Regions from separate parts of the Homo sapiens genome. Here regions 2 and 3 are each linked to region 1. Evidence: fine-mapped expression QTL. A gene starts in region 1. Each other region holds a variant in brackets. All regions are shown on one strand. Distances are between the middles of the regions.

Evidence for each region. PIP is the estimated chance that this variant, and not a neighbour inherited with it, causes the effect. A credible set is the group of variants that fine-mapping cannot tell apart.
Region 2: its variant is the best candidate, but not a certain one, in a credible set for the expression of GCH1 in whole blood (TOPMed, PIP 0.52).
Region 3: its variant is the best candidate, but not a certain one, in a credible set for the expression of GCH1 in whole blood (INTERVAL, PIP 0.57).

What each region holds. Positions count from the first base shown.
Region 1 is chr14:54,900,557-54,904,797 of GRCh38, forward strand. It overlaps GCH1 (GTP cyclohydrolase 1), which reads right to left and starts at 2,270. Exons shown (of 6, transcript NM_000161.3): 1 at 1,765-2,270. The coding sequence starts at 2,107. RefSeq lists silencers at 1,455-1,514, 1,525-1,574, 1,985-2,624.
Region 2 is chr14:54,860,241-54,864,481 of GRCh38, forward strand. The region is part of intron 2 of GCH1 (GTP cyclohydrolase 1); the gene reads right to left. Among named protein-coding and RNA genes, the nearest start is that of MIR4308, 16 kb to the right of the region's middle. The variant C/T (reference allele first, on the strand shown) is at 1,677.
Region 3 is chr14:54,816,157-54,820,397 of GRCh38, forward strand. No RefSeq gene overlaps it. Among named protein-coding and RNA genes, the nearest start is that of MIR4308, 60 kb to the right of the region's middle. The variant G/A (reference allele first, on the strand shown) is at 2,116.

The DNA of each region.
Region 1 (4,241 bases):
TTAATCCTCTTTAAATGAATCTTCGCTCATGAGATATTTCAGCTAACCATTTCTCAAGTAAATCTGTGAGTCACTTTAGATAATTCTGTGACCTGTCTCAGGGTCAGAAATTCCTCTCTCTTTGGGTAATTAGATCCATGCTAGATTACAGAACACTGTCCTATGAATTCTCTTTAAGGGAGGATTCCCAAAGCCTGGCCGATGCTGTGAAGTAAACCACTTTCTGTGTCTGCAAGGGGCAAAATGAGTAAGGCCTTAAGAAGACATTTCATTACATTGTGAAATATCTCACACACACACACACACACACACACACACACACACACACACACAAATTTAAAGCCCTAGACCTCCAAAGAGCTGATCCCACAGAAAACTGAAAGTTTATTTTTCAGTCTTTGTATTTTGAAATCTCTTCTGAGATTCCAAACTTTTGCAATTGAGGGGTAAAAAAAAGTGAATTTGGAAACAGAACTAGAAGTCACTGCCGGTTTTAGAGTGTAGCATCATTTCCTTTTGGGGCCCCGTCTCTTTCACATTCTGATTTCCCACCCTTCCTTTGGGGTGTGGAAGACTGGGCAAAAAATAACTTTCTTTTTCCCAGGGTCTATTTGGTGGAATCGCTCTACACTCCTTCAGAGAAATAACTGGGGCAGGGAGATTGCCTTTCCAGCGCACTGTTTTTCTTTCAAAAAACAGTGAACGGTAGAATGCTTCTTAGGGCAAATAAATAAATGTCACCAAGACACACGGAAGGTGTAGACTGGAAAATAATGTCTTTGGTCCCAGCTGTAGAAGCCAGAAGCTTTATTTTTTTAAACACAGACCAATACTGCTTCTCTGGCCAACAGGCAGCAAAGTCCCCATTTTCCACTCTCCATCACCCCATCTTGCATCCTACCCACACTGATTGCATCCCCACCCTCTGGGTGAAAAGCCGACACGCCTCAGACGCTAACAGCACCGGGTCAACCCGGCTTTATTTTAGGGTGGGAGGGTGCGGGGATGAGACTGAGTCCTGGAACCCACGGAGCCCTCCGAATCCCGGAGTAGCTTTACTGCTTTTTGCGGGGTTGGGGGTGGGGGGAGGAAACAGATTTCAGCAGCAAACTCACCCAATCAACCTCACACCTCAAACTCCGGGGAAGCCCGTGCCCAAAATTGTGCCGAATTTTGTAAATGTCCTGAACTGGAGTAAACTTGAGGTGGACAAAAAAAAAAGCACAACTCTAAGACTCCGATCCCCTGGCAAATCAGTGGGAATGCAGGTCCCCGAGGTTTCGGGGAAGGATCGCGCCGAGGCTTCAATCCAGATACACACCCTGACAATGGGATCTCAATAAGGAACTACCCAGGAAGCCGTCGCCGCAGCAAGTGCCCAGGTGATCCTTATCGTGGGCAAGTTTGGAACCGCAGGTACCCCGAGAATCCCGCGCTGGGCGCTCAGGCGAGAGGGCTCCGGGCTCCCGTCCACGCCCACCCGGGGCGTTCTAGGAGGGCTGCGCGCTGGGAGCGGGAAGGGCCCCTGGAAGGCGGCTGCAGCGAGTTCCGGGGCTGAGAGGTCGCTGCCACCCAGGAAGCCCCGACTGTGCCCCACGCAGGGCCTCGGCAGGGCGGCAGGCTAGGGCGGGTTCGGAGGTGACAGCGCCCGGCTTCCTGCGCCAAAAGTGAGGCAACTCCGGAAACTTCCTGGAGCCGGCGCGCGTTTCCTGCAAGCACCGCCCCCGCCGCCCGCACGCTCTAGCAGCCCGCGGGCGCACTGACCTGAGATGGTCTCCTGGTAGCCCTTGGTGAAGAACTGCATGGCCGAGGCCGCCCTCCAGGGCGTCTTGAGCAGCCCTTGCCGCTGGGGGTTCTCGCCCAGCGAGCTCAGGATGGACGAGTAGGCGGCTGCCAGGTTAGGGAGGTTCAGCTCGTTATCCTCCTCGCTGCGGGGCCGCTCGCCCTTCCAGCCGTCCGCGGGCTGCGCGCTCTTGGCCTCGGGCCGCGGGGGCTTCTCCGCCGGCCTGCTGGGCCCGGGCCGCGGCGGATCCCGCTCGGGGAACCCATTGCTGCACCTGGCGCCCCGCGGCTTCTCCGCCGGTGCCCGCACAGGGCCCTTCTCCATGGACCCGCCGCAGCCGCTGCCGTTCGGGAAGGACCCCGGGGCGCTTCGAGGTCTGCGGCTAAACTCCGCCGGTGGCCGCGGACAATGGGCTGTGGCCGGAGTCACCTGAGGAAGGTACGCAACCTGCTTAGATCACACTCCGAGCCGGGAGCGGCCACAGGCTGGAAAGCCCGGCCGCGCCTCCTTTTTATGGCCCGGCGGCTCAGCCTGCGCCGCGGAGCGCTCCCATTGGCCGGCCCCGCCTCGCGTCACGGCCCTCGCCGCGCCCCTCGGCCTCCCGCCCCCGGGGTCCCCAGCAGGGGTCGCGGCTCCGGAGACGCCCGGAGGGGTTCGCAAGCGCAGGGAGGGAAGGAAAAGGGCGCCGGCCCCTAGGATCAGGCGGGACCCCTCCACTTATTGCGGAATGAGCCGAACCCGAAAAGAGGCAGTCGTCCAGGAGCTGGGATCTCAGTGAGAAAGACGCGGTCTGGGCGCCCAGTCGCCCCCTCTTCAGGCCAAGAGGGCGCTGCATTGAAGGGCTCCGGTCCCCTCGCCCTGTGAAAGATCAGCAAACAGGTGGCCTTGCCTGGAGAGAGACCGAGTTAAGCCACCGATTAGGAACCAACTCTTAAGCTTTCAAGGCAAGAGAATAATGTGACTTCAGACTCTTGGGTTTAGTTAAAAACGCACCTGCCACCTAGGGGCCAGGTGGCACCGCTGTCGGGGCAAGTGTCACATCAAGTGGCCCTTATGTGGGTCCCTATGTCTAGAAGGATAGGATTTATGGTTGCTAGAACTTTGATCCTGGAAAAATTGATTTGCAAACGAAGATAGGACTTTCACTTAAAATCCATTTCCGTCGGTGGCTCACGCCTGTACTCCCGGCGCTTGGGGAGACCGAGGCGGGAGGATCGCTTGAGGCCAAGAGTTCGAGACCAGCCTGGAAAACATAGCAAGACCTCATCTCTATAAAACCCATCGCATTTTCTAGAAACGCAGTTGTGCAGATTTGGTGCTCAATTGTTTTACAGTTCCATGCAAAGCGTCTTTCCCCAGATGTTGGTACAAATTGTGAAATGCTATTCACCAACTGAACTCTTAACCAGTGACATCTGCTGTAACTGTTTTCTTTGAGATTAATAAATGGACCTTTTTCCTCACTTGAGGGATTATCTCATAATGCCGAAGGTGAGCTTTAAAACATGTATCAAAATAATATTTTTTTTCTTTTTTTTTTTTTGAGGCTCACTTCATCCTCCGCCTCCTGGGTTCAAACGATTCTCCTGCCTCAGCCTCCTGAGTAGCTGGGATTACAGGCACCTGCCACCATGCCCGGCTAAATTTTTGTATTTTTAGGAGAGGTGGGGTTTTGCCATGTTGGCCAGGCTGGTCTCGAACTCCTGACCTCAGGTGATCCACCTGCCTCGGCCTCCCAAAGTGCTGGGATTACAGGTGTGAGCCACCATGCCTGGCCTAATGTAGATTTTCTGACATAGAAGCAGGTATTAATAGGCTTAGGATCAAACAAACCAATAGGGAAGCCTGTGGAATTATTCTATGCTAACAATGTAGCTTGGTCATTATAATAAGTAATTAGTATTTATGATACATCTGCTCTAGGCGCAGCCCCGTTGGAAACATTCAGGAAAGAAATATGGACATTGCCTAGCCTTGTAGGCACCTTTACTCCAAAATGGAAGAAATGTTCATATCAGTGGGGTTATTTATTTATTTATTTATTTATTTATTTATTTATTTTTAAATTTTAATCTATTTATTTAAGAGCGGGTTATGAGACTGGCTAATTTTTGTATTTTTGGTAGAGATAAGGTTTCACCATGTTGCCAAAGCTGGTCTCGAACTCCAGGGCTCAGGATTATAGGCCTGAGCCACCGTACCCGGCCCAGTGGGGTTTTTAAATAGAGAATATGAACATCCTTTGGAAAACCTCTTTGTCATTTTCCTCTTTATTAAAATTTTTAAATTTTTTATTGTAGGTTTTTATTGGGAGTGGGGCCCTGCAACATTTTTTTCCTCTAACTGTGCTGCCCACTGTCTGCTGATACCTCCTGGTCAGAATTATCTGCTGGGTCTCAAGCTATTTCAAGCATAGTTGAAGACAACATTCAAAGGATGACCTTGCATTTAACAAATG
Region 2 (4,241 bases), 40 kb before region 1:
CTTACCTGTGAAGTTGAACTCTTGACACAAATCTGAAAGTTTCTTCTTTATGGAGGAGAAACATTCTCAAGGAAAGGCAAATGATCTCATAGCAACACTAAAATGTATACAGGAAAGCCTCCTTTAAATGGCAAAAACTGTAAGCATAAGTATTGCCATTCCACACATCACAGCAGCCTTAAGATCCCACCTCACAGCCTTAAGATCCCACCGCAAAGCCCTGCAGCACAGAAGGTCTCCACACCCTTTTGTGCTTGGCTTCCTGGTTTCTAAGCTGCTAGAGAGTGCACCATCTTCCTTTTTTTTTTTTTTTTTTTTGAGATGGAGTCTCACTCTGTCGCCCAGGCTGGAGTACAGTGGCCCAGTCTTGGCTCACTGCAAGCTCCGCCTCCAAGGTTCAAGCAATTCCCCTGCCTTAGCCTCCTGAGTAGCCGGGACTACAGGCGCCTGCCACCACACCCAGCTAATTTTTGTATTTTTAGTAGAGATGGTGTTTCACCGTGTTAGCCAGGATGGTTTCGATCTCCTGACCTTGTGATCTGCCCGCCTCGGCCTCCCAAAGAGTTGGGATTACAGGCGTGAGCCACCACGCCCGGCCCCATCTTCCTAACTGGAGAAAAAGGGCACTGCTACCACCATGGCTTGGCAAGAACCTGCACCCTAAGAACTAAGTTTTAAAGGACCCAATATACAGCCAGGCCATTTCTGTTATCTTAAATGGCACCAATTAATATCAAATATAAAAGTTACTCTTTTGGGGCCAAATACTACATACGAAAAACATTAGTTCTCTGAAAAGATTAATAGAGTAAATGGTCACTTGTAGGCAATTAATTAACCGAATATAAAATTAGAGACTCAACGGCATCATGGTTTGCTAACACTGTTTTCATTGTTCACTTACTATTTACATAATTGATCTAGTAGTACTTAGTGATTTTTTCCCCCATCCATTGGCACTATGCTTTAGGAATTTGAGAAGTCCACCTCATTGCCTTCCTGGTTGGCAGGAGGAAAAAGTAAAATAGCACCTGAACATTGAGGATTTCAAAGAAAAATTAGAGAGTTAAAACTTTCCCATGAACCAAGGTCTTCTATGCTGTCTGAAATTTTTACATTTCCATGCAGACACGGAATTTGTTCATTGTTTATACTATTTTTGGTCTTAAGATCCTAGGTAATTTAAATGTCCATTTCACAAAATCACTAGATAGGCCAGGAGTGGTGGCTCACACCTGTAATTCCAACATTTTGGGTGGATTGCCTGAGGTCAGGAGTTCAAGACCAGCCTGGCCAACATGGTGAGACCCCATCTCTACTAAAAATACAAAAATTAGCCAGGCGTGGTGGCGGGTGCCTGTAATCCCAGCTATTCGAGAGGCTGAAGCAGAAGAATTGCTTGAACCTGGGAGGCGGAGGTTGCAGTGAGCCGAGATCGCACCACTGCACTCCAGCCTAGGCAACAAGAGCGAAACTGTCTCAAAAAAAAAAAAAAAATCACTAAATAATATATTTTTAAAACAAAGGTAGCAAAAACACAAACACTGAGGAAGTAATAGCAGAAAGTAACAGGATAAAATGGTGACAGGCTGAGTACAGAATCAGTGCCTTGGATCTGGCTGCAGCCAAGCCACTAACTCTCTCTATCCTCTTGAACAAGTCACAGGCTTTCTGTG[C/T]CTAATTTGCTCACCAATAGATTCCCTTTCAAAGATTCCTTCATTATCAATTGCAGGATTTCCAGATACGATATGGCTTCTGATGTGATGTATCTGGGTTTTCTGATTGCTTTCTCTTCTTTTCTTTTTAGAGACAAGGTCTTGTTCTGTCACCCAGGTTGGGGTACAGTGGCATGATCATAGTTCACTGTAACCTGAAACTCCTGAGCTCAAGCAATCTTCCTGCCTCAGACTCCCAAAAAGTAGCTAGGACTACAGGTATGCACCCACCATGCCCAATTAATTTTAAAAAAAAATTTATTTTGTGGTAGAGACAGTCTCACTTGCTGGTCTTGAACTATTGACCTGAAGCTATCCTCCCACCTTGACTTCCCAAGTCGCTGGGATTACAGGCATGAGCCACCTCACTCGGCCCTGATGTGATATAATATGAAGTCTTCAGCACCCTTATGAAGCACTACTCTTTTTTTTTTTTTTTTTTTTTTTGGACACGGATTCACTCTCTTGCCAGGCTGGAGTGCAGTGGTGTGATCTCGGCTCACTGCAGCCTCGACCTCCTGGGTTCAAGCGATTCTCCAACCTCACCCTCCCGAGTAGCTGAGACCACAGGTGCATGCCACCATGCTAGCTAATTTTTGCCTGTTTTTTTGTTTGTCTGTTTGGTTGATTGGTTTTCGTTTTTTTTTTTTTTGGTTGGTTTTTTTTTTTTTGGTAGAGACAGGGTTTTACCATGTTGCCTAGGTTGGTCTCAAACTCCTGAGCTCAAAGCGATACATCCACCACCTGCCTTGGCCTCCCAAAGTGTTGAGATTACTGACGTAAGCCACCGTGCCCAGCCCTTACGAACTACTTTTATCAGAAATGTTTAGCCCTAGTCTTATGAAACTTTAGATCTAATCTAGTTTATAGGAAATCCAGAGGCTGAAGGAAACAAATCTGGAAGGTGGGGCACTCTGCTGAACAGCTGGCCTATTTTCTTTTCAGTAGAGAATGTTATGGGTGGGAGCACTATTTTAGAACAAAAGGGACTTAACAGGTATAACCAAATGCAATGTAAATACAAATGTGTGACTCTCCCTTGGATTCCTGTTTAAACAAACCAAGAGTAAACATTTGAGACAATTGGAGAAATTTAAATATGAATTCGTTATTAGACACTATTTAAGAATTATTGTTAATTTTGTGATAGTGCTGCTGTGGATAAGTAAGAAAATATTTTAGGGCCAGGTGCGGTGGCTCACGCCTGTAATCCCAGCACTTTGGGAGGCCAAGGCGGGCGGATCACGAGGTCAGGAGATCAAGACCATCCTGGCTAACACCGTGAAACCCCTTCTCTACTAAAAATACAACAACAAAATTAGCCAGCATGGTGGCAGGCGCCTGTAGTCCCAGCTACTCAGGAGGCTGAGGTGAGAGAATGGCGTGAACCCGGGAGGTGGAGCTTGCAGTGAGCCGAGATCACACCACTGCAATCTAGCCTGGGCGACAGAGCGAGACTCCGTCTCAAAAAAAAAAAAAAAAAAAAAAAAAAGCATGCACATGTACTCCAAAAAAGTATTGACAGCAGTATTGTTTGTAATAGCAAAAAAAAAAAAAAAAAAAAAAGAGGCAACAATACAAAGGTCCACCAAGAGCAGAATAGATAAATTGTGGTATATTTGTACAATGGAATAAGATATAACAATGAAAATAAACTACAATGACAGGCAATGACATCAATGAATCCGACTATGTAGAACAAGAGAGGCCAGACACAAAGAGTACATATCGTAGAATCTTTCCACTTACATATAGTTGAAAAACAAGAAAACGAATCCATAGGGTTATAAGTTGATAAACTGATACAAAGGATGGATTAGGGATTAAGAAGAGAAAAGAAATGAGGTGAGCTTCCAGGATGCTACACATATTGTAGTTGTGGGGGTTTCGTTGTTGTTTGTTTGTTTGTTTGTTTGACAGGGTCTGGCAGTCTGGCTCTGTTGCCCAGGCTAGGATATAGTGGCGCAATCTCGGCTCACTGCAACCCCTGCCTCTTGGACTCAAGCCATCCTCCCATCTCAGCCTCCCGAGTAGCTGGCAGTACAGGCATGCACCACCATGCCCAGGTAATTTTTATTTTTATCTTGGTAGAGATGGGGTCTCACCATGTTGCCCAGGCTGGTCTTGAACTCCTGGGTTCAAGCAATCCACCTACCTCAGCCTTCCAAAGTGCTGGGATTACAGGCATGAACCACCGTGCCAGCCTATTCTAGTTCTTGATCTCTGAAGTGGTAAGGAACACCCTTAAGTTTTATGCATTTTCTATCTATATATTATTTCCATAAAAAAGTGAAAAGATACAATACTTTAACAAAGACAAAAATGAAGCAAATGTTAACACTTTAACTTTAGTTGATGGGTATATAAGTATTCATAACACTGCTTCTTGTAAGTCTTCTGTTTAAAGATTATTAATAAAGAGTCAAAATTAAATAAAATTATGATGGGGGTAGGGAAATGGGACAACTCTTTGTTCTATACCACATGTTCTCAAAGGTATGTTAAGTAGTCATTCCTAGACAACAT
Region 3 (4,241 bases), 84 kb before region 1:
GGATGTTCATTACAGCAATGACTATAATGGCAAAAAAGAAAATTGGAATTAACCTAATTGTCACGTAACAGAGGATTGGTTAAATAAATTAGAATGCATCCATATTATGAATTATAAGCAATGAAAGTGATGATGTAGAATAATTTAATGACATGGGAAAATGTTTATAATATGATGTTAAATGGAAAAAGCAGGGTACAAAATTGTATGATCCCATAAAAAAAAAAAAGCTTATGTTCCCAGTTGTATAAAAGTACAGCATGTACAGTACAGAATTCTTGACAATAAATGACTATGTTGCTAGCTTATATATATATATACACACTATACTATCATTTTTATCATTATATTAGAGTGTACTTCTACTTAAAAAAAAAGTTAACTGTAAAACAGCCTCAGACTGGTCCATCAGGGTCCATTCCAGTATTATTGTCACAGGAGATAACAGCTCCATGCACTTTATTGCCCGTGAAGACCTTCCAGCAGAACAAGATATGGTGATGGAAGACAGTGATATGGATGATCCCAACCCTATGTAGGCCTGGGCTAGTGTGTGTGTTTATGCCTCTGTTTTTAATAAAAAATTTTAAGCCAGGCATGGTGGTTCACAACTGTAATCCCAATGCTTTGGGAAGCCAAGGCAAAAGGACTACTTATGCCCAGGAGTTGGAGACCAGCCTGGGCAACATAGTGAGAGACTTTGTCTCTACAAAAAATTTTAAAAATTAGCCAGGCTTGGTGGTGCGTGACTGCAGTCCCAGCTACTTGGGAGGGTGAGGCAGGAAGATTGCTACAAAAATAAAAATTAAAAAAAAAATTTTTGAAAAGAACCAACCAAGGAAAAGCACATATGCAACCAAGCAAATGATGGCCCTCCAAGGAAATGAAATCGGCACTCTCTAAATCTGGCCAGCATTTCCTTCCTTGAATGGAAACAGTGGTAGAGGGGATAGAAGTCATACAGCTTTTGATTGAATTTAGGAGCGAAAACACTTGGTAAAAATAATGATATGAAAAGTAACCACTAGGAGCCACGCACCACAATACACTTACATGAAATAAATCATAGCTCACAACTACACAAGATTTGCAAGGCACTACAAAATGGGATGTGTTGGTGGCTTTGACCCATGCTTGGTCAAGTGTTTCATGGCATGACATGTGTCATCCTCCCTGTGAGGATGGTGTGTGGGGATGTAGGAAATACAGTCAGACCAGTGGCCAGCCTGTGAGTCCCCACACGTCCGTCCAGTTCCAGCAGAGCACAACCCTTCCTTAGGGAGAGAGGTCCAAGCCTGCAGCAAGCTCACAAAATGCAAAGAATGCACTCGATTATGTAGAGTTTGATTTAGAAACATCCCCAATCTAAAAGTACTTGTCCCCTTTGGGGACAGCCATGTCTCCCATCACAAAATGAATGCCAGAAAGCAGCTCTGGAATTCTCCTCCACATTCTTCTTTTCATGAAGACTGGGACTGGCTAGGCCAGATTATCAAAAGCTCCCAGCGGATGAAGCTCAGGGCTCGCTCAGACCTGGACAGGACAAACACACCCACTGTACCACAGGCACTGTTCTCCAGGTGGCCGGTAAGCCCCATACGCGGGTCACCATGCAGAAGTGATGTGAGACCCAACCCACCTGAATGAGTCTTGAAAAATAATCATCAGCATTGTAGAGAAGATGCAATGAAAGATACTAATTAAAGGGGAGGTAATTCACTCTCCCAACCCATCTCAGGAGCCCAGAGCAGAGAAGGTAGAGGGCATCCTTTCAGAGGGGAGCTGGGGCAGACCCCAACTCCCTGACCACGCAGCCGCAGTGTGTTGACTTACTAAACAGCTAACTGCCAGCACAGCTGTGGAGCTTCAGAAGAGCCACACTGGGCTAGTGACACACATGCTCAGTCACTATGTTAGTGAACTCAGGGGGCCACATACAGCCACTGCCTTACTCGCTGGGGCTGTGCCCCAGGCTCTAATCTTTGTGGGTCCATGAGGAACCAAACTCTGAAATGGACACGGATGGCCTGACTGGAAAGAAATGGGAAAATGAAGTCCACTTCCAGGTCTAGCTCAGCTGCCCAAGCATCCTGGGGGCCAGGAGCCCCATTCATG[G/A]CTCTAGGACTTTGTTGTAGAAACAGAAAAGCCCCCTAAAGAAAAAAACTGTCCCAAGGAAGAAAATGCCAGGAATGCCGTCATCCCCTGCTGCCCCATATTCCTAAGAAGCTTCCCAGATTGAAGCCAGTAGGCACTCAGCTAAAACCGCCTGAGTGCCATTGGCCAGGCCCCTCCTGGCCCAGGGTCAAGGGGTCCAGGGAGGGCAGGATGGCTGTCTCTGATCTCCCCCCAACCCCCGCCACTTAGCCATGAGACCACAGAGCTCCAATATGTACCCATAAACACACACACCCCTAGCATCTAGGAAGGGAAATTCTATCTCTTGCTTATAACCGAGTTACCCCACTTTCTGACCTTAAAAAAGAACAGCAGGTTTCCTTTGAAGGATTCAAACCTCATTAGCCACAGCGGGAAATGATGCTTTAATGGGCCCGTGATGGTCTCAGCTTCGGGTGTCTGTGTACGCAGCCATATTACTTAGCAACACCATAGCCATTTAGGTTTAATTTCCTAGCTTGCCTGATAAGGAGGCTGCAAGTGTAATTTGTGATGCCGCAAGCTGGGCAAACTCACAGGGCTATTAGATGAGTCACTGTGTGATCCAGGCCACTGTGCCGAGCTCTGCAGAAGAAGAGAAATTAACTCTGATTTGTGGGGCTGATACCGCTCAGGCGGACGCAATTTTCTGTGTCTGGGAGCTGTGCTTCCGTCTCTCCTGCTTTCTGGTTTGGTGCCATCATTGATTAAGGGAAGCTTCACTCACCTCTCAATCCCTGTTATGATCATCTTCCAGCTTTCTGAAATCCTCACACAAACTCAAAGCCTGGCAAGGTAATAATAATAACAATATCAATAATAACAGCAATAACAGTAATAGCTCACATTTCTGAATGCTATTCGAGTGCTACTCATAAGTTATCTCTGTTAATTCTCCTTACAACCCCAGGAGGTAGGAACTACTATTACTCCTATTTTCAAATGAGGAAATCAGGGCACAGACAGGATAGCAGTTGGCTGTAAGACAATGAGAAAGTAGGGGACTGGACGGCCCACTGAGCACGGCACACTTTACCGAAGAGCCGGACTGTTATTCATCACAACCCAGCATTGCCATATCTTTCACTTTTCCAAAAGATGCCACAAATCCAGATTTTGATATAAAATCCCATGAGTTTTAAACATCAACAACTAATTTAATTGTTTAGTAAATATCGTGAGAACCAAACCAAAGAGATCGGCCAGCCAGATTCGGCCCCTGAGCCACCAGTTTGCAATCTCCACCTCATTCAAACAAGTAAGCATGTTCATCAATAAATACACTCCAATTTTATAGCTTGGCTTCTGTGAGTTGCTGGTGACCCAGCTCTTTGTTCATCCCTCCCTCCAGCTGCATTCCTCCCAGAGCCTCAGTGAGAGTTCTAGTCTTCCAGTTGCTCTAGCTACAAATCTTAGGGTCATCTATGGCTCCTTTCCATCTCTCACACTTCACATAATCTGTCAACAGATCCTGTCTGCTCTACCTTTAAAATTTATTCACAATCCCTCCACTTTTCACACCCCTATGCCACCCTGGTTCAAGACACCAGCATCTCTTGCCTGGATATCATGAGCCGCCAGCTGACATCACTTTCTCCCTTACCCTGTTCTCACCAGAGGAACTGGGGTACCCCTGTAAAACCTAAGTCAGATCCTGCGCTTCTCTGCTCAGCCCCTCCAATGGCTCCCATCTCACTCAGTGAAAGTCAGTGTCCTAAATGACCCACAAGACCCTTCATGACCTGGCCCCTTCCCACCTCTCTCTGCTTCCCTCCCTGCACTAGAGACACTCGACTTCCTCCTTGCTGCTACTCAGATACATCAAATGTGCTCCAACCTCAGGCCTTGGGCACTCACAGCTCCCTCAGAAACTCCCCTCCGCTGTCTTCTTGACTTCTGCCCTCTTTTGCTCTGTTCAGTCTCCACCGAAGTAGAAACATCTTCCTGGACAACTTATCCAAACTAGTAATCTCCCAATCACTCCCCCTCCCCTTTCCCTTACCAAGCATCTCTGCCGCACAGCATACATTTACCTATTTGTGGTCTCTCTCCTCCAACTAGAATGTATGCTCCATAAAAGTAGGGAA